Linked DNA regions of Homo sapiens: all the other regions are linked to region 1. The links come from fine-mapping of genetic effects on gene expression. A gene starts in region 1. Each other region holds a variant in brackets. All regions are shown on one strand. Distances are from middle to middle. Region 1 holds the start of SH3RF3 (SH3 domain containing ring finger 3). Region 2 has its middle 42 kb from the start of EDAR. Region 3 overlaps SH3RF3 (SH3 domain containing ring finger 3). Region 4 overlaps SH3RF3 (SH3 domain containing ring finger 3). Region 5 overlaps SH3RF3 (SH3 domain containing ring finger 3).

What was found.
Region 2: its variant is fine-mapped to the expression of SH3RF3 in whole blood (TOPMed, PIP above 0.99).
Region 3: its variant is fine-mapped to the expression of SH3RF3 in whole blood (TOPMed, PIP above 0.99).
Region 4: its variant is fine-mapped to the expression of SH3RF3 in whole blood (TOPMed, PIP above 0.99).
Region 5: its variant is fine-mapped to the expression of SH3RF3 in whole blood (TOPMed, PIP 0.93).

What each region holds. Positions count from the first base shown.
Region 1 is chr2:109,127,315-109,131,430 of GRCh38, reverse strand. It overlaps SH3RF3 (SH3 domain containing ring finger 3), which reads right to left and starts at 2,226. Exons shown (of 10, transcript NM_001099289.3): 1 at 1,318-2,226. The coding sequence starts at 1,890. SH3RF3-AS1 (SH3RF3 antisense RNA 1) reads left to right here and starts at 1,312. Exons shown (of 1, transcript NR_029193.1): 1 at 1,312-4,104. It also overlaps a transcript of RANBP2 not described here. RefSeq lists silencers at 2,211-2,410, 2,441-2,490, 2,501-2,570, 2,951-3,010.
Region 2 is chr2:109,029,654-109,033,769 of GRCh38, reverse strand. It overlaps a transcript of RANBP2 not described here. Among named protein-coding and RNA genes, the nearest start is that of EDAR, 42 kb to the right of the region's middle. The variant T/A (reference allele first, on the strand shown) is at 2,083.
Region 3 is chr2:109,331,562-109,335,677 of GRCh38, reverse strand. The region is part of intron 1 of SH3RF3 (SH3 domain containing ring finger 3); the gene reads right to left. It also overlaps a transcript of RANBP2 not described here. Among named protein-coding and RNA genes, the nearest start is that of MIR4266, 20 kb to the right of the region's middle. The variant T/A (reference allele first, on the strand shown) is at 1,589.
Region 4 is chr2:109,222,938-109,227,053 of GRCh38, reverse strand. The region is part of intron 1 of SH3RF3 (SH3 domain containing ring finger 3); the gene reads right to left. It also overlaps a transcript of RANBP2 not described here. Among named protein-coding and RNA genes, the nearest start is that of MIR4265, 83 kb to the right of the region's middle. The variant G/A (reference allele first, on the strand shown) is at 1,717.
Region 5 is chr2:109,429,043-109,433,158 of GRCh38, reverse strand. It overlaps SH3RF3 (SH3 domain containing ring finger 3), which reads right to left. Exons shown (of 10, transcript NM_001099289.3): 6 at 488-658. It also overlaps a transcript of RANBP2 not described here. Among named protein-coding and RNA genes, the nearest start is that of MIR4266, 120 kb to the right of the region's middle. RefSeq lists an enhancer at 2,774-3,337. The variant A/G (reference allele first, on the strand shown) is at 1,813.

The DNA.
Region 1 (4,116 bases):
TTACATCAAAAACAGCAAGGCCAGGAAGGAAAAGTTTGAAAATTTCTAACGCAAGCATTTAGCTGGATTTAATCACAATTAAAACCAAAGAAAAAAATTCCCCTTCAGCAGTGCCCCCCAAGTGACCCCCAGTGACTATCCTTGACTGTCCCCATTCTTCCTGATCCATAGAAAAAAAAACCCATTGCAGCAAAGTATGGCATTTAACTCAAGCTCAACATCCAAGGGTTTAAGTTCCTAACCTTAACCTTAGAGATTTGCAGTACTGCCTAATCCAGGTGCTAGAATGTTCCCAGCATTTCAGGATTACACATAGTGGAAGGACTAGGCATCACCAACTCCTTAAATGGTCAAAAGTAGAGGAATAAAGTTGTGTTTCTAAAGCAAATGATTATTCCAATAGATAATGTATTTTTTTTAACATTTAAGTGCTTTTCTCCATTTAAAGAAATTAACAAAACCCGGGTCCTTTCTTTTCTCATTTAAACCAGCATCCCATGCCCTCTCTCCTGGTAACTGTTCACAAGGTGGCAAGGGTGTGTAATAAGAAGCTGTAAGAAGCTTTTAAAACCAAATCATTGAAGCCATCCAGAGAAGATCTTTCGTCTAAAACAGAAGCAGCGAAGGCCCTAAAATGCGGCTGTACCAAAAATAATAATAATAAATATAAATGACCCCCGTGGGAATGCAACCCTGCCTGGGAGCCCAGGAGAAGACCTTGGCTTCTGGTTAGACACTGCCAAGTCCAAAAGGGCTGGGTCAAAAGGCTCCTGGGGCCTCCAGATTAACTCCTTCCAGACTACTAGAAGCATTCCTCCAAACCCCAGTCCCACTCTGCCTTCTGCCCTCCCCTCCTTAGCCACACCGCAGGCAGGAGGCCCGCGGGCTTCCCAGAGCAGCCATCAGAGCCCTGTCAGAAACGTTAAGGGCTAACTTTTCTCTAGGCAGGCCCAGGGTGTGCAGAGGGAGTGTCTGGGGACCCAGAGGAAGAAGGTCCCCGTTTCTAGGGAGACGCAAGGGCGATGCTAAGTTTAAGAGGCAGGGTAACAAGTCCGGCCAAGGAATCGGGGGTGAGCGACGGGACAGGAAGGCGTGCCCACTCCACAGGAGGATGGGACACACGTGAACAAGCGGCGAGCTGCCCAGGGGCCGGATGCCGCCACCAAGCAAGCGAAGTTGGAGGAAGAGCAACAGCGGAGTGGGCCAACGCAGGACCACCCGTGGTCTCCTCCGCACCTCATCACTGCCCCCCACGCCCAAGCACCCACCCACACACTCCCACGTGCCGTGGCCACTTCCGCCGAGACAGATACTCACCTTTGCCGCCGGCGCGGTCCTGCTGGTCGCCAGCTCCCGCAGACTGCCGGCGGTGCTGCCCGCGGCCGCGGAGAGGAAAACCGGGGAACCCGGGGTGCTGCCTGCCGCGCCGCCCCCGCCGCCCGCGAGCGTGGGGGCCGCACTCTGGCCTGGGATGGGACGCGCGGGCGGGCTGCCGCCGGGGCTGGTGCCCGCGCGGGGCCGCTGACGGATGCCGTCCAGCAGTCGCACCAGCAAGATGTTGGCGGGCAGTTCGTCCACGCCGCAGCCCACCAGGATGCGGCACTCGGGGCAGCGCAGCTCGTGGCGCGAGCACACGATGCTCTCCAGGCAGCGGCGGCAGAAAGTGTGTTGGCATGGCAGCACCTTGGCCGTGGTGTCCAGGCGCTCCAGACACACGGAGCACTCCAGCAGGTCCAGCAGCGACGACTCGTCCATGTCCTCGCCCGCCCCCGCGGCGGTGGCCGCCGCCCGACGCCGCCGTCGCTCGCCTGGCCTGTCCTCGTCGCCCTCGCTCTGCGCAGCAGCGGCGGCCGCCTTGGATGCGCACAGCCAGGACGCTCCGAGCAGCATGGGGGAGGCGCCCGCAGCGGTCTCGCGCGGCTGCCTAGGTCCCGGGGCCGGCGTGGAGCCCGCCACCGGCAGCCAGCATCAGGACTGGGGAGCCGGGCTCCGCCGTGACTTTCTTCACCCCGGCTGGTGGCCCGATGCTAGGGCTGTGGCGGTGCGAAGTGGCTCACCGACCGGCCTGCGTGGCGGGGACCGGCCTGCGTGGCGGGGACCGGCCAGCCGAGCCCGCCCAGTCCTGAGCGCAGCGCCTGCGGCTGCGGGCTACACCTGTCCCGCCGCAAGTCCGCCCCGCGCGGGGGACCGGGGGTGCTGCCGGGCACGAAGCTCAACGGGTTCTGTGCTGCAAGCGGCGGCTCGCGCCTGGGAGACCAGCGGCAGGAAGTGCGGGCAGCGGCCGGCCAGGTCCCCGGGGAGGCCGGGGCGCGGCGTGCACGCTCCTCCGCGCAGCTGGCGAGCCGCACCGCCCCCGCGGCACCTCCATGCGCCCCTGGCCTGCTCGCTAGTCGCTGTCCTCCAGAGGATTCAGCAGGACCGTTCCTCTTCCTCGGCCGCGAGCACGTGCGCGGGGGTGCGCGCGGAGGTCACGGTCACTGCGGGGCTCAGGGAAGGAGGCGCCGTGCCTGCAGGACTTCCCTTCGCTTGGGCGCAAGCCGGCGATTAGCCTGGTCCCCTAGGACATCTCCAGGGCTCCGGGGAACCTCTCCTGCGCAGGCTTGGCCCTGCCTCCTCCAAGCGTCCGAGTCTTTTTCGGCTTTTCGTGAGCCTCAGAGAGGGACGTTTCCTGCCAACGCTGCTGCGAAGGAAAGTTTGGGCGGCGTTATCCCGACTGCCTTCCTCGCCAGCGCCGGCGAGCAGCTTGGGGACACAGCCGACGCCCGGGCATCCTCCCCGACGACCCCCCGGAGCGCTCCCAGTTCAGACTCCTTTCCGAGAAGCGCGCAGAAGTGACAGCCCCGGAGCTTCGTTCCGGTGTAGGTGTGGGGATGCGCCGCAAGGCAGGAGGGGAAGGCGCTCCAGTTGAAGGGGGCACCCCGGGGCCCGCGCCGACTCCTCCCGGCGCAGCCTTGGCTCGCCGGAGTCGCGGGTCGGAGGCTGGCGCCGCTGCCCGCCGACCAGCACCCTGGCGCCAGGCGCCCGGCTCCACGCCGCACCCTTGGCGACGCTGTGCGAGGGGCTCTAGCGCCCGCCGCGGCGCAGTCTCGTGAACCCCCGCTCCAATTTTTTCCTACGGAGGCGCAGAGGAGGGTGAATTCGCGCTCTCCTTCCCGACGCCCCGGCTTCTGGGAGCGTCAGAGCAACGGAAGTACGTACAGGAGGACCGAGAGCAGCAGGGAAGTTTGGCGGTGGGCTGGGGTCGGCGGCGAAGATTCCCTGCCGTGCGCTGCCCCCTCGTGGCCGCTTTGCGTTCCCGTCGGGAAGGGCTGGGTTCCAGTCCAGGGCCCAGCACAAACCAGGATTGGTTGGACGCTGCACAGCGAGTTCAGTCAGGGCTAACATCAGAAGAGTCGTGGGGGGCCTGCCTATCGGCCAGCCTGTCCTTGTGGTTTGTGAAGTTGTATGATCTTTCTGTTATTATTAAGGAAAAAAGTAGTATTTGTTGAGGCTAAAAGGCCAAGAGCGTGCTATATATTATTTAATCCTCTAAACAGCTCTGCCAGATAATTATTTTATTTATTTATATTTACTTCCATAGCTTTAGACAGGATCTCGTTCTGTCAGGCAGGCTAGAGCGCGGGGTGCTATCACGGCTCACTGCAGCCTCAAACTCTTGGGCTCAAGCCATCCTTTCACCTCAGCCTCCTGAATAGTTGAAACTACAGGTGCGCCACCACGCCTGGCTAAATTTTTAATTTAAATTTTTTGTAGCGACAGGGTCTCCTTATGTTGCCCAGGCTAGTCTCAAACTCCTGGGCTCAAGAGATCCTCCAACCTCATCTTCACAAAGTGCTGGGAGTACAGGCGCCAGCCACGGTGCCCAACCTGTGATAATTATTTTAAACTCATTTTACAAATGAGGAAAGTGATATTCATACTTGTAAAGCCATTGGGGCTGAATTTTCATTTTTGTATCCACAGAACTAACACATAAAGTTTACATGCCATTAGAATGTAAGCTCTCTGTAAGCTACAGATCTTTTCTACTGTAATATCCTTAGTGCCTAGGGCAGTGACTAGCATATAGTAGGTGTTCAATAAATATTTGTAGAATTAATGAAAGGATACGTCTCT
Region 2 (4,116 bases), 98 kb after region 1:
TGTTGGCCAGGCTGGTCTCGAACTCCTGACCTCAAATGATCCACCCGCCTCAGCCTCCCAAAGTGCTGGGATTACAGGCATGAGCCACCGCCTCTCAAAAAAAAAGTATCATCAAAGAAGGGAAACTCACCAGATCAACACATCCAGACAATGAGATACCCTACATTGTGACTGCTTCCTTGCCCCTCCGTAGTTCCTGTTTTCTTACACACTGTTATCTTTCTTCCCTGGTGTATAAACCCCTAGTTTTAGGTGGATGGGGAGATGGATTTGAGACTGGGCTCCCATCTTCTCAGCTACAGCACCTGATTAAAGCCTTCTTCCTTGGCAATACTTGTCATCTCTGTGATTGGCTTTCTGTGCAGGGAGCGGCAGGACCTAGACAGAACCTGGGTGTTTCGGCAACACCACCTGCCTCTGCTTCCGAGGGCACACTCAAAAAGGAGGGGACTGGGCCCGTGCATTCACCTCAGTGTCTCTGTTTCACAAAAGGAGTCGTGGAAATCAGAATAATCAAAATCTCAGCTCACAGAAATGAGCGAGGCTGAATGCAAAATTAAAGTGGACAGGGCCCATCAACAGCCTGAAAGGGGCTTTGTTATTCCTTCCTAGGGAAGTCATCACCTCTCAGAGAAGTGTCTGGCTGAGTAATGACCAAACATGAAAGGTCTCTGTCCACTCAAGGCATGGATCATACTAAGGCCTGGTGATCAGTTTAAAGGAAATGTATTTCCCATGGCTGATGTCCACAACGTTCAGCTTCCAAGGGTTCAGGAAGGACTTATATTTCACCCTGCCATGACATGGGTCAAATATGAGGCCTCTTTGAAAATCCAGGGAAAATTAGCTCCTGGTGACATAGGATGCACTTCTTAGCTCCTAGTTGCCCATCTGGAGTTCTCTGTTAGGCCCACAGAATCAGCAAACTCTGTGTGGAATTAGGCGATTGCTCCTCAGTAGTGGCAGTGCAACCGGAGGGAAATTATTGTTCCATTCTGACTTGTGAGTTCCTATAAATCTTAGCTTTAAATCAAATGCTCTGTGAGTTGCTACAGGAGTTTCATTTAACCCACCAGCCTGTGCAAGAGGTGAGAGGTGGCCCGACTGTGAAATCCCAGAAGACACATCTAGTTGGCCAAGGCCTCTGCTCTCAGCTGGAGGAAAGACTCCCCCACCCCACCCCATGGGGAGGGGAGAAAGCGCATGGATGGAGTGGGATGAAGAATGGAGAGTGAGGAGAAAGCCCTTCCATGGTGTAAAAGTCAGGGCATCCGCTGAAGCCTCTCACACATTCGACCGATGTCACCCCAAGGAGCAGTTTCACCAGACAGGGTGCTGAGTCTAGCACAGCATCTGTTTGCAGACGGTGCTTGAAAGGACTGAGGTTGGGTCCTGGAGTTCTAAAGTTCTAACCCTTTTCTTCTGTCTTATTTCACCTTCCTGCAAAACAAAGAGGGGGTGGGGAGGGACAAAAAAAATCGCTATGCAGAAGTTCACTCCGGAAAATGCCCTGAAATAAAATCAACAAGATTGATGTGCAGGCAGACAGGTAATAACTTTAGAAGTGAAAGAAATCTCCAAAGATCTATGACATTTTTAACAAAACAGGGGGAAGGTGGGCAGCGCTCAAAACTGCAGAGCGGTAATTACACCCACAGGAAGTCTCTAATGAACTTGAAAACAAAGCTCCGAAGAAAGGGAAAGAAGATAACTGCAGAGTTCTGTTTACGTAACCGTAGGGGGTTTGAACACCAAGAACTTACAGCTCCTGAAACGCGGTGAGGAAATGGGAGGGAGGGCAGCGAGCGTTCAGAGTTTTGGCAAAAGGTCAAAGAGAGTGAACGGATGTGGGGGGAGGGGAAGAAGGTGGCGGGGGGTGGGTGGTAGCGCTCACGGGACAAGAAATTGAGCAAACAGAAAAGCTTAGTTGCTGAAGAAAATACTTAGAGGAAGGAGGGTTCTCTTCGCTGGGGGCAAAGTGGGGCAGCTTTATCCCGCCTGTGGCCCGGAGGTAGGCGTTGGCGCAGGTCTCGCCGGCGCCCGCAGCGCGTCCAGGTTGCCACCGGCAGAGCCCGGCCCACG[T/A]GGCCGACGCTGAAGCGGCGCTCTCCGTTCCTCCAGCGGGCGCTTCCCGGCCGAGCTGCAGGGGGTGCACACAGCAGAACTTCACTGCGCCCTCCTCGCCGCACGTGGGGCCAGGCCGTGCGCTAGAGACCCGCGGACTCGGTGCAGCCCGGCGAGGCGGGCAGAGCCGACTGCTGGGTCTGAGCGCGCATCCCCTGCTGCTACTGATTGAAGCCCAGTCCCCGGTGCAACAGTAGTAAGAGGGGGCCTCCAGGGAAGTGATTCCGTCGTAAGGGGAACGGGGCTGATAACCTTATAAGAAGGCTGGAGGAAGCTGTTTCCTCCCTTCCGCTCCTTCTGCAGAGCGTTCCCGTCTCTACCCCACCCCTGCCACATCAGAGCCCCCATCTGTGCTGAGTCAGCCAGCACCCATCAAGAAGCCCCCATCTGTGAGGAACAGGCCCCCCTCACTGCTGACACCTTGATGGTGGACTTCCAGCCTCCAGCACGGTGAAAAGGAAATGGCTATTTATAAATTACTCTCTAAGGTGTTTTGTTGTAGCAGCAGGAATGGACTTAGGGACCCGGAGTTCTTACCATTGCCCAATCACAATACCCTTAGACTCCAGCATCTCCACACATGGCGTCCCCTCGTGGAGCGCTCCGTGTCTTACCATGAGTCAGTGAGACAAAAGGTGCAGATGACACTGATGGTGGTATACATGCACACTGTGTTAGTCTGTGTACTAGTTATGAGTATATATACCAATTATTAAACCATTTTACCAAGAAAATAAAGACTTGGGAGATGTTAAAAAACTGCCAAAGTCGGGTGTGGTGCACCTGTGGTCCCAGCTACTCTGGAGGCCGAGGCAGAAGGACTGCTTGAGCCCAGGAGTTCAAGACCAGCCTGGGCAACATAGTGAGACCTAGAAAACAAACAAACAACAACAACAACAACAAAAACTGTCAAGAGACAGAACCTGGATAAGAAGTGGGTTATATAAACCAAAGTGGTCCAAAAATTCAGATGCCTGAGGGGCCCCAAGCTGGTCCTAGGTACTCAGGAAAGTACAATTCTAGAAGGAGCCTTCTGCTTAACAGCCTGCTGGTCATCCTCAAAGAGGCCACCACTCCCCACTCCTTCTCAGGGAGCCTCATCCCATCAGACAGTGAGGCCCATTCTTTCATTCATTCAGGTCATATTTACTGTCTATCCAGAATGCACCAGGCACTGTGCTAGGTGCTACTATACACATTATCACATTTGGCAGGGTATGGCACACCTCTTCATTTAAAAATAACCTTTCCAATGACATTAACAATGGGCTTTACTTACGTGAAATTCACTTAAAATAGAATTCTAAGGAATTTTACGTAGCATACCATAATTTGGCTAGAGGAGAAGGCTGGGTCTTCAGTGGGAAAATGTTGAAGGTAAAGCACTTGAGCGCATGGCCTGCTGGGGAGAGTGCTGAGCCAGCTGGCTGTGCAGGGGAGGATTGAGGAAAAGGCTGAAAATGAAGGCTGAGGATCAGTTTCATGAGCTCTCGAATCCAGGTTGATTTGAAACTGTTCTTTGCATAGGCAGAACATTCTGAGGTAGCAAACAAAAGTTAGAGTCAAAGAATTCTTTCTAAAGAATGATGTCAAGGAGGCAGTAAATCTAAGACTCACCCACACACTCGAACTGGCACTCAGTAAATGCTTACTGAATGAATGAATCAATCAATCCATCAATACAGAGATAGCAACCAGGATCCTTGTCAAGTCAAGAGGGTTATTAGTATAGTATTTCTTTAAAATAAACAGCCTTATCTGTGAGCAAAATAAGAGGCTGCCCCTGAAGGCTAAGGATGTCTGCATCCATTTGAGAGAAACAGCCTTTCATTGTGCAATGATTAGGCTTAAGTTGCTGGCAAGGCTGGAGACAAGGATAGAGATGAAAGGCTGGATGATGGCTGCCGGGGGGCCCTGTCCTGCAGCTGTTCCAGCCAGGAAAGGAGAGGGGAACAGAGGAGACAGCACAGGCAGCAGGCAGGCATCCCAGGCCGA
Region 3 (4,116 bases), 200 kb before region 1:
TGGAGTTTATGTTCCAGCCAGGGGGACAGCAACAAAACATACAAATAAGTAAAATCTAGAGAATGTCAGAAAGTGGTTAAGTGCTAAGGGGACACATAAACCAGGGGAGGGGACATGAACACTGGGATGGGGATAGGGTGAAATCTTAGAACGTCATCATCGAGAAGGTAACTGAGGGACACGTGGATGAGCGAGGGCTAGTCGACGAGCATGTCCCAGCCCTGAGGGGCAGAGAGGAGGTGGCGTGTGGAAGAGGTACGGGCTTCCCAGGGTAGGGGCTGTGGAAGGGCTGGAACAGCCCAGCAGAGACTCAGAAGGAAATAAACGCCATTGAGAGTTTTCAATGTGGAAACTTGAGGCATAGGGAGAGGATAAAGAGACACCTGAGAAAACATGCTAGAAAGAGCCGTTCTCGTGTGGGACGGGCGAGGGGCCTTGCCCCACAGTCCCCACAGCTGCTCCTCTGAGGTGCGTAGGCCTCGGAACTCTAGATCAGGCGCAAGGAACAGGTAACACCCCAGGATGCTGCAAAACGTCCTGACGAATCTGCTCCGAAAACACGAAATGTTCGGTTTTGAAGCAGGGAGTGGTATGACCACCATGATCCCAGGCAGAGACAAAACCGTGTCTTCAATGATCAGGGAGCACATGTAAGTCGCCAACGCGGTGACATAAATCGCGTTCTCAGAGCCTCGCACCAGGACGCATGGCCTGGGAAGGCACGCAAAGAGTTAAAAGCAGAACCTTTCCAGGAAGGCCAGCCTAAAAAGCAAAAAGAAGGCTTCTCAATAAAAACACTGGGTTCCACAAATATGTAGTCCACCTGTCCTGGAAGTGCTACTGAGGGGAGCAAGTGGCACATAACATTCTAGTTGGAGAAGGAGAGAGAAAAACAGAGGCAGGAACAAACTCCTTCAGCAGCCTCTGTGGCCCATCGCCTCCTGTTCTCATGAGTTGAAGAGGCATATTGCAGCTTTTTCTCCCTGTGTCTGTGGGTCTCCTTTCCCTCTTGTCTGCATTATTAAGTGTGACTTCCTGTCACCATGCTGCCATCCCCTGCTGGAATCAGCGCAGTGGACACTGTGGCTGCCTCACTCCATCCCTGGCATCCCCGGAGCGGGTGAGGGTTCCCCTGCTGGCTGGCACCACTAGCACCCTTCCTTTAGCCAAGCCAGTCTGTGCCCTTATTGCGAGGAAAGTCCGCAGGGTTCTGGACCAACAGGAAGCCAAGACACCCACAAGGCTGTGTTTCCTATGGGAGGTACCCTGATGATGAGGTGGTCTTTATTTTTTTTTAAGATTTTTTTTTTTTTTTTTTTAAAGGAAAAAAAAAAAACTGTCACCCAATCTGAAGTCGAGTGGTGTGATCATGGCTCACTGAAGCCTTGACTTCCTGGGCTCAAGCAATCCTCCCACCTCAGCCCCTCGAGTAGCTGAGACTACAGGTGCATGCCACCACACCTGGCTAATTTTTTCTATTTTTTTGTAGGGACGGGGTCTCACCATGTTACAGCCCAGGCTGAACTTGTGGGCTCAAACAGTCCTCCCACTTTGGCCTCCCAAAGCGCTGGGATTATAGGCGTGAGCC[T/A]CTGAACCTGGTTTTGAGGTGATCTTCAAATGCACAACTGTCTGTGATTTGAGGAAGCGACTGGACTTTCCTAAAGTCTTAGAAACCTGCCCACTTCCTTAAAAATTTAACACATTACCACTTGTCAGAAAGTACTCTGAGCATGTCCTCATTATTAATTCTTCTGAACTTCATAGCAACCTTAGGAGACAAGTATTATTTTGGTGATATCATTATTATATCATCATAATTATAATTATTAATATTATAATGGAGATATTATTATCTCCATATTATCTCCATTTTACAGTGGAGGAAACTAAGTCACACAGAGGTTAATTAACATGTTCAAGGTCATGCTGCCAATACGTGGCAGAGCTGGGATTTAAACTCTAGCAGTTTGGTTTCAGAATTTGTGCTCTTATCTTCTATGCCAGCGGTCAGCAAACTTTGTCTCTAGTGGAGCAAGGTGGCTTTGCAGGCCATCAGTGTTAGCTGTAACTATTCAACTCTGCCATTGTAGCAGCCAGAGCTCCAGAGATTCCATGTAAATTAGTGGGTGAGATTGTGTTCCAATAAAACTTTACTTACACAAACAGGTGGGGTATGCTATACGTGAAACCTCACTTTGTAGACTGTGAAATGTGATCTCAAGTCCAGGATGACTGACTAAGGTTAGGCTTGTTTTATTTTGTGTTTTTAAAAGCAAGAATCTCAACAGATTCACTTTCTTAACATCTGATGCTGAAACCAATACATTACATTGATCACATTCAGTTTCTTGTGCATTTCAGCAATGAATATATCCAGCAAGGATATGCTAGGGCTCTTTTAAAAGGCGAAACTAATCACCCTGAACTTGAATTCTCAACTACAGGCAGGAGAATGCCTGAACCTGATAGATACAGGTAAGTCCATCATGCCTTTCCGAGGTGCAGGCCTGGTGCTGCCGCGAGCAAGATCAACCCTGGGACTTGAGCTAGGGCTGGAAACTGAGGTCTCTCCTGGAACGCACTGAGGCAGCACTGGAGCTGCAGGGCACCAGGCAGTGAGCAGCTCTGCACTCACGCGCATTCCCAATCCCAGGCTGCCGAAGACGAATACATGACCCAGCAGGCTAGGCTGTCTTCTGCATCCTGCTGATGTTGGGACCACCAAGGTCTCACTGTCACAGTTAATTTCCTCCCATCAAAACAGCTCAAAGGAATCCACTGGTTTCTGACCATTTATTCTATAAGGCAAGAAACACTTCAACACTTTTGTGAGGACACAATTAACATACTGTGCACGTTAAAAAGGGTGATTCCGAGTCCTATTTCTCACCACCCACACTAGCACCTGTGCCTCCACACACTAACCCTGGGGGCGGGGTGGCTGCTCCTGGATATGTTCTGTAGGAAGCTCGGCAGGAATCACTCAGAAGGGTGACTCATCGCCCCATCCTTTCCTGCCTGGCAAATTAGAGGATGTTCCACCCACGGGGCAGCCCTGGCTTCCTTAGCACAGCACAGTGAGCTAAGAAATGCAGAACTGTCTAGTCCAGAGAGGGCTGAACTGCGGGGAGCTCGGGACAGGAGAAAGCTCTGTTCCTCACACATCCTGGGACTCCTTAGGGGCAGAGGCAGCAAAGGAGCCTTGTGCTGCTTCTGCTGCACTCAGCCCCAAGCCCGTCCAGGAAGACCTGCACCCTGCTCGGGGTGCTGGGGGAGTCGCGGGAGTGTCAGAGCTGAGCTACAGGCTGAGAAGGAAGGAGCAAGTGCAGCACCCCTGGGCGCAACTCTCAGAACACAGAATCAGGAGGAGGAGCTCTCTCAGGAGAGAGTTGGCGTGCCAGAGGGAAACAGACGGATCAGCAGGTTGTTTCTACCCTGAACTCAGAGAGGCAAGAAGGTCTGTTAGGGGTCCCATGAGGCAGCTTGCAGAGGGCTCCGGGCCGCAGATGCTTCCCTCTCATGGGTAAAGCGCCTCTCTGGTGCTCTTTACCAGCAGCCTTGGCCAATGTCTATGCTAAACAGAAGCACCCAAAAGACTGGCAAACACATGCAGTCTTCTCTCTTTAGCTAAAGCAGAAAGCCACAGATTTCCGGTAACCGCTGCTCCCAGGCTCAGCCGGCATCCACGACTAGTCACAGACAGTCACAGCACCAGGAAGACCCATCGGAGGATCGGCCAGGTGCTGAGGGTGCAGGCAAACCCCTCCAGAGAGGCAGTGGACTGCAGCTCCTCTGGTGAGAGGTCTCTCCTCAGGGGAGACCCCAGGGGCATGACAGGGTGCCCCTGGCAAAGATCTGAACACGAGACTTTTAAAAAATCATCTTAATATTATATTCATTCAATCAGTCACCAAGTACTTATTGGCCACCTAATATGTGCCAGACATGGTTCTAGGAACTAACAAAATAGATAAAGAAAATAGAAACAAAATAGATAAAAACATCTCTACCTTAAGGGAGCATACACTTTATAAGGGGACAGAGACATACACAAAATAAACTATTAAAAGTACGTAGTATAGTGAAGACCGTAAGTACTCCAGAGAAAATATATCC
Region 4 (4,116 bases), 96 kb before region 1:
TATGAAGAGGACAGTGGAGCTGCTAGGCCACCATGGAAAAGCTTGGTGGGACCCAGAGCTAGAAAGAGACCAAGTCCTGATGGCATCATCTGAGCCATGAACCCGGCCATGGTGGATGCATCTACCTCAGGACCCTTGGTTATCTGGGCCACCACACGGCTTTGCTTCTCTCTGTGTTTTGACTGATTCCAGTTAGTTTCTCTCCTGCAGCTGTAGGGGTCCTGGTTCATTTCTGTAACCAGCTGTTCTTCTTACTAAGCCACAAGTTCCTTAATGGCACAAAGCATGTCTATATCTGAATGTCCCCTAAAGATCCAGCACCACGCCTTCTGCGTGGAGATCCTGCAAAGACTTAGGAGCAAACGGAGCCACAAAGGGAGCAGATGCATGGCCCCGGGAGAAGTCAAGATGGCAGACCAAGAAACACTCAGGAAAGGGGAGCGATTCAAGAAGCAATGAGAAAAAGCTAAGAGTGATGAGCCACAAAGTCACCCTAAGAACAGTAAAAATCTAAACTTTAAAGGGACTTAAAAAGAAGTGGTTGCTACAGTTTATTTTTGGTTTATGTCTTAAGAGGTCAGCAGGGTACTTACTTAACGATGAGGACTGCACATGGGCCACGTGTGTCATTAGACCTCACATGGCTCCAGTTCCTCCATGGGCCACAGACACTGTAGATGAAACAGCTGACCTTCCTGAGTCAATGTGACTTTAGCTTTGAAACAGTTGGCAGGGTCATGTTCAAAATGAGCTTATTGATCTGTTTACATAACTACTCTTACATTAACTATTGTAACAAAAAAAATGTAAAAGGAGCCAGTCTTTCTCTAAGTTCCTTCTGCAGATGTTGACAAGCAGAGCTGTGAGCTGGGTTCATAAACCTGGGAAACAGATAATAACTGCTATTTGGGGACAACCTCCTCTGACATTTCCTCCTAAAATTAACAAGTGATTTAGCCTGAGTCAAAAATGACAATATTACAGCTATGCAGATAAGTTGTTCAGGGTCAGGCCTATTTTTTCCTGACAAAATACTACTCTAATATTAAAATGGTATTTTGGTGATTCATTGTGGAGAGCTCCAACAACAGATTAGAATAGGGACTCTTTGAAAGCAAACTTTTAGCTGGCATGGTGGAAAGCGACTATAGTCCCAGCTACTCGGGAGGCTGAGAGGGGAGGATCACTTCATCCCAGGAGGTCAAGGCTACAGTGAGCCGGGATCGCACTTCTGCAGTGCAGCCCGGGCAACAGAGCGAGACCCTATCTCAATTTTAAGAACGAAAGAAAGCAAACTTGAAACTAACTTATAAAAATAAATCTTAAAATTTAAGTCTAGGACAAACACACCACCTGCTCTCCTCTCTGTTCCTGATATTTACAGGAAACAAGACGGTCATCTTTTGATTTTCTAAATTCAAACATGAAAGTGACTTAAGACATTGCAAATGGGAAGTCCCAGAGAGGAACGTGGAGCATCCCACATTAAAAATCATTCCCTGGCCTAACTCTCAGGAGAAAACTCCACATGGTGAGTGTGAGTGGGCCAGGTGGGTCAGCCCACCCAGTCCCCAGTGGGGAGTCGGCCTGGCCTGTATCTTTAAAGGGAGTTGTTTGTGTGAGAATCGTTGTGAAACCTGTTAACGTGCAGATTTCGGGTCCCTGTGAAATGGGTCCAAGCGGAGCCCGGAAACCCACATTTTGAAACTTCCCTTG[G/A]TTACTTGCAGGTCTCTCCACCCAGCTGAGTACAATGGTTTGAGGACTATTCAGCCGGATCCCCAGTGTTTAATAAGCCTTCTTTATTATTATCGTTATTAAAATAGAGCTCTTCATATCCCAGTTGCCAAGAATGGGGCAAGATAGAATCTCAGAACTAGCAGAAGCCATAGAACCTCATTTTACACAAGAGGAAACTGAGGCCAGGGAATTTAAGGGACTGTGCTGGTGTCATCCAGCTTAGTTGGTTGGTCTAAACGAAAAGGCTCCAGGCCAGGTGTCAAAAAGCTATGTCTCAGTCACTTCCTTCTTCCAGACAATCTTTCCTTCAAACCCACAAAATTCTTTTTAAAATAAGATTTTTAAAAAGATAAGGTTATGCTGCAGTTCTCTAGCTGTCCATTAGAGTAGCCACTAGCCACAGGTAATTATTTAAATTTCAGTTTTAATTGACTAGAATTAAATGAAAAAAAATTTTTTTGAGACAGAGTCTTGCTCTGTCACCCAGGCTGGACTGCAGTGGCATGATCTCAGCCCACTGCAACCTCCCTCTCCAGGTTTCAAGCGATTCTAATGCCTCAGCCTCCCAAGTAGCTGGGATTACAGGTGCCCACCACCATGCTGGGCTAATTTTTGTATTTTAGTAGAGACGGGGTTTCACCATGTTAGCTAGGTTGGTCTTGAACTCCTGACCTCAAGTGATCTGCCCGCCTTGGCCTTCCAAAGTGCCGGGATTACAGGTGTGAGCCACTGCGCCTGGCAAAATGAAATTTTAAAAGCCACTTCCTGAGCCACGCCGGCCACATTCATGAGCTCAGTAGTCACCTGTGGCTGGTCGCTACTGTACTGAACAGAGCAGACACAGGACATTTCCATCACTGCTGCTATGCACATGACCTCAAAAACTGCTTCAAGTCCCTTTTACATCAGAACAAAATGCAGATTTAATCTTGGACTAAACCCAGCATGCAATCAAAATCCCACATGCGTATCTGAAAATGTGCTTATTTGTCCAATATGTGACATATAGTTTTAGCATCACTAATAATACCAAACAAGTCTTATTTTACTATGCTTGGTAAAAACCTAATTTTGATAGATCTGATTAGCTATTCAAGCCAAGTTTAAACTCCCAATGCCCACACCCCCTCCATTTGCACATGCACACACACTCTCTAGGCCTGCCAAGCAGGGGCAGAAGTGGGAGACCAGGCCTCAGTTTCTTTTTGTGTAAAACAAGGGGCGAGGCTAGGTAAACCCTGAAGCTATTCCAGCTCTTAACATTCTATCCATTAATGAGCCATGTGGACAGATTTTATTGATTGAATTTGTTTTTGAGACGGAGTCTCACTCTGTCACCTAGGCTGGAGTGCAGTGGCACAATCATGGCTCACTGCAACCCACACCCCCCAGGCTCAAGTGATCTGATCCTCCTACCTCAGCCTCCGGAGTAGCTGGGACAACAGACATGTGCCACCACATCCAGCTACCAAGTGGACAGATTTTAATTTCACTTTCTGCACAAACATGTATTGAACACTTTCATGTGCCAGGAGCAGAGACTAGCAGGGATGGCTCAGAGGCTGTCCTCCACGGCTCTGCAAGGAAAGACAACGACACATCCCGGATCTCCACGTTGGGGCAGCATCACGTGGGGGGCAGAATTCAGGGGAGAGCCATGGAGAGGTGCAGGGCTACCCAGGGAGCACTAAGGAGCTCCAGTTGTCTGCATGGTGCTACTGCCCTCCACCGATGCTTGAATGGAGCCCGCAGCTGAAGCATGTGCCCACACCCCTCAAGCCCTTCCTACGCTTCCATTCTGCTCATTTCCAGCCACTGACCTAGGACTGACATGGGCAGGCCATGCCCACTCCCAAAGGGGGACAATGCCTGAAATAACCGAGGAATCAAAGCACTTCGGCAACTCCATCACAGCGAGCACACGGCAGCTCCTAGTGGCCACTCCTGCTTCTTCGGGCTTCAGAACGCCCCTCTTGGCTCTGTCGGCTCTGGGAAACACACCAGGTAGGCTGCTCACGTGGCTGGTGCTCACGCAGCCTCTGAGGGCTCTGGATCTGGTAACAGCCAACTCCTGGTTATCAGGGCACTTGACTGCATGGGACGGCAGCAAAGGGGGACAAAGCATTCATGATCTGTGGCAGCAGCACCCATGCTGGTTTCAGGAGAAGGTGGCAACCTCATCCTCCCACCTCTCTCCAACCACCTGCTTCCCCCTGTCTGGGATGGAGAAGCATCAGGGCGTGGTGCCAGCCTCTGCCAAGAGGTGGGATCACACCATCTGATGGCCACAGGGGCGGACAGTGCCCTCTTCACCCTGAAGGGTGCAGTGAGTACAGACCCTGTTGATGGGAGAGTATGGGGACCGTAGCCCCAGGCAGG
Region 5 (4,116 bases), 300 kb before region 1:
ATGCACACACGCACACACCTTGTGCTTACAGTATGCATACGCACGTGCACAGGCACGCACACTGCACATACTCTGCACACATGCACAAATACCATGCACACAAGCACACAGAAGCGTGCACACACTGCACACGCATAGCATACACGCTGAACACACTGTATATATGTGCACACACTGTCCTCACACAAACACACATTCACACTTGAGACCTCATTCTGGTGACTTTCCTGTCCCTGCTCCTCCTGATCCCATTCTTCTCCCCTTGGTGGCCAATGTCTGCTGAGGACAGCCAAGGAGTTGAGTGCAAACCCAGCTCAGAAGGTGAAATGTGGGCCTGGGGACGCCAGTGGGGGCTGAACCCTGGGCACTGGTGGCCTTGCTGCCTTCTGGGCCCGGCTGACAGAGTAGCCTCCAGCAGTAACAACAGCGGTAAGGCGTGCAGGCCCTTGCCCTCTCCTTGCCCAGGCTGCCACCACCATGCCCTCACCTGGAAACGGGTGTCACGTAGTTTCCGGGGAACACCCCAGAGACCCCGGTCCTCAGAGACGCCCCCTTGAACCAGCCATCCTGACACTTCTCGAGGACCCGGTACATCTCTCCCTTGTGCAGCTCCAGCTCGTCACTCTTCTGGGGCTTGTAGGCGTAGAGCGCCAGGTACCTGCGGGCAAAGCATGGGGCCAGTGTCAGTGGGAGCCCTCCTGGGGATAGGGGACCGGCCGGCATTCCTGGGGGGAGGTTGTCTTTGGAGGAACCCAACCTAAAAAGACCCACTAGAGTCTATGGGGGCTCTGCAGTTTACAGAGGCCTCACACACCCTCCCCAGCTCACTCCTCATAACAAACCCACGAGGCAGGGAGCCTTCGGGGAGCTGCCTGCAGGGGAGGGGTGTGCCTGTCACCCACAGCCTTAGGAGGATTCCACCTGCCCATCTGACAGATAGGAAGGCAGCTCCCTAAGGCCCAGTGACCCCAAAGCCCTCAAGGACTCTCTGAACTGCATCCCAGGGCCAGCTCTTTGGATTTCCAGTGTTTTCCTCTTCTAAAGTCTGATGCTCTGAGCAAGGGAAACCTTAGGGAAAACTGAGGGTGAGCTAAGCTATTCTTGGGCTGGGTTTTCCTCACTTAATATAACCTGGCCTGGTTTTCCTGCCTGGCTTATCCAATCAACCAGAGGTGGAAGAGACCTCAGAGGCCCTTTTTAAGGGAAAGGTGGTTAAGTTAGAAAACTGTGGTTGCACACTTCCTTGCAGTAATTGTGCTATGGTTAATTACTTGACCTTTTTTTTTTTGAAACAGCATCTCACCCTGTCACCCAGGCTGGAGTGCAGTGGTACAAGCATAGCTCACTGCAGCCTCAATGGCCTGGGCTCAAGTGATCCTCCCACCTCAGCCTCCTAAGCAGCTGGGACCACAGGTGTGCACCGCCATGCTGGCTAAGTTTTTTATTTTTTGTAAAGATGGGGTCCCACTATGTTGCCCAGACTGGTCTTGAGCTCCTAGTCTCAAGCAATCCTCCCATTTCAGCCTCCCAAAGTGCTGGGATTACACCAGCCTTAATTTTAAGTCTTATTTGCAAATAAGGAAAGAGCAAATTTAGTGGTGAAAATCCCAGCTTAGGGTTTAGATGCTGTGCCTCTAACTCAGCCCATGGGCCAAGCTACTCTCATAAAATACTTAACTATACCTATATCTTTTCCTTGTAAAGATTGGATAATACTTACAAAAGTGCTCTGCTACTTTTGGGATTTGGGGAAGGTTGGTTTTGAACGGAGGGAGAGAACATACCAGATTATTTTATTTGCTCACAAGATTC[A/G]GCCACGGAAGCTGGTGGAGGCCTCAGTTCACTAAGAGACCAAAGATGAATGTTAATGAAGAGTGATCTGGTGGACCTCACACCAGTGCAGGCTGCTGGGTGGGGATGCTGACCCTATCCAGCGGCTTGTGCACACAGTGCATCTCTGGGGATATGAGGGAAGCTCATAGACCCCACCATTGCACCCTCCTGATGCTGGAGGAACCCCACTTAGAAGTGAAAACAGAAACAGAATGCAGCTCACGAGGGCTCAAGCAGGAAAAAAGAACCAGTGTGGAATATTCTGGAATAGCAGGAGAACCTTGTAGAGATTAAAAGTTTCTTGGCCTTAATATGAAATCTGCCCCCCTTTTCGAACATCCTAATCCTACATAGCAAGGCCCTCTGCCCTCATTCAATGACCTTGGCTATTTCCTTTGTTGATAGGTGTCCCTCATGCCCTCCTCCTAGGGACATGCTGTGGGCTCCAACTGTGGCTGGCATCTTTGTTTCTTTCCCTGTTTGAAATGGTGAACACTGACAGTGAAATTAGGACCAACTCTGGGCTTCAGGAGGATACACAAAATCATCAGGAGAGGACCCCGCCACCCCACCACGTTCACAGTTTCAATGCTATGTCTAGGTGACAAATGGAGAGAAACCAGGGTGTGATTCTGTTCCCATCACCATAGAGGAAATACCACTAAGGGAAAAGTCCAGTGAAAATGACAAACAACTGCAGCCAACACGTACCTGTGTATTGTGCAGGGAAGCTGGAGGGGAGGAGAGGAGAACGGGGAGAGGTGAAAGAAAGGGGATGAGAGAGATGGAGGGAGGAGGAGGGAGGAGGAGGAGATGGGGAGAGGATGGGAGAGGACGGGGAGAGGACAGAGGAAGAAAGAGAAGGGGAGAGGAGAGGAGGGTGGCTTCCACACAGCCTGGGCTGAGGCAAAGGAAGGCAGAAGAGGAGAGGAAGAGTGCAGGGAGGACTTGGATCCGTGGAAGGCTTGTGAATCAGTAACAATGACGCACAAATTGATGTGCCTGCTCTCAGAGAAATACAATTGAGTGTAAATCCTGCTTAAGTTAGCCTCATCTGTTGCTTTATGGTGTCAAAACAGTTTGCTTCAGTGGCCACATGCAGAATGCGCAGCCGGGTTGGCTCCTGGCCATGGGCAACAGTATGCAACTCAGGCCGCACCAACAGCTCCTTTTAGTTGGTTCTGGGGTCCGGGGCTGCCTTTCCTCTGGAGTGGGGGGCTCATCAGCTGCCAAGGCAGGCTCAGAACACGCCCTAGCTGCTGACCACAGCTCACGGACTCCTCTCCCTCCTGCTCCTGGGCTGGTAGGCAAGGTGCAGAGCTAGGGGCTCAGTGGCCTGTGTGGGGTGGGCTGTGCTCTGTGGAGGCCTTGTTCCGTGGATTGGCTGCGGCTACACCCGCTGACTGGGGCTGGGCCACTTCTCCCTCCAGGCTACTGCAGGCTCCCTGCACAGCGTGGAGCTTGGTGGCCTGGGAGCATGGAACCCCTAGCAGGGCTACCTCTGCTCGGGTGGCCCTGTGCAACGTGCTTCCTCCCCAGGGCTGTCTGTGGCCTTCTTGCACATGTTTCACAGCTGCGGACACAAAAGCTCGAGGGGATGGAGCTTCTGTCCATGGTCACGCATGTTCAGGGGTAGGGCCAGGGCTGGGCTGCTGGAGCTGTCAGCGCGGCCTGGGGCACAGCTGGGGCAGGGCTTGGGCAAGATGAGAGCTGCAGTTGCACAGAGGTGTGGCCCGGGGAGGCTGGGGTCCTGAATGGGGTATGTTGGCTCCTCACTCCAAGCACAGGCCCGGTGTGGCCAACGCGTAGGGAGATGCTGCCCTGACGTGCACCAGGGCACTAGTGCACTTGGCCTCTTCATCTTAAATTTTAAGTTCGTTCTGTTGATGAGTAATCCTTCACTCTGATCTCTATTTTAAGTTCGGCCTCTAGGTGTAGGTTGCTGGGGGAACTGGAATGTAAATAAGCCTAGCTTCACTTTGAAAAATCTCTTCTCTGCCTACTTTTTTTCCTCTGGGTGCCTCGTAGGGGACACCAAAAGCAGATGGATGTGCTGGGTCTGTTTTCTGGCATGCGGCTCGTGTTGGGTGGGCCTTGGCCCGGGTGGGGGTCAACTGCATCTGCTGTCCTCTCTGAGGTACTCAAGAGGAGGCCTTGGAGGGACCACACTGAAGAGCAATTTGTGCCGAGACCGGCCCTTCCCAACCTGCCTCCCTCCCACCTCTCAGGGTCTCTGCCGCTGCCCCCTGCAGCCACAGTGGCATCGCCTGTTACCCTGTTTCT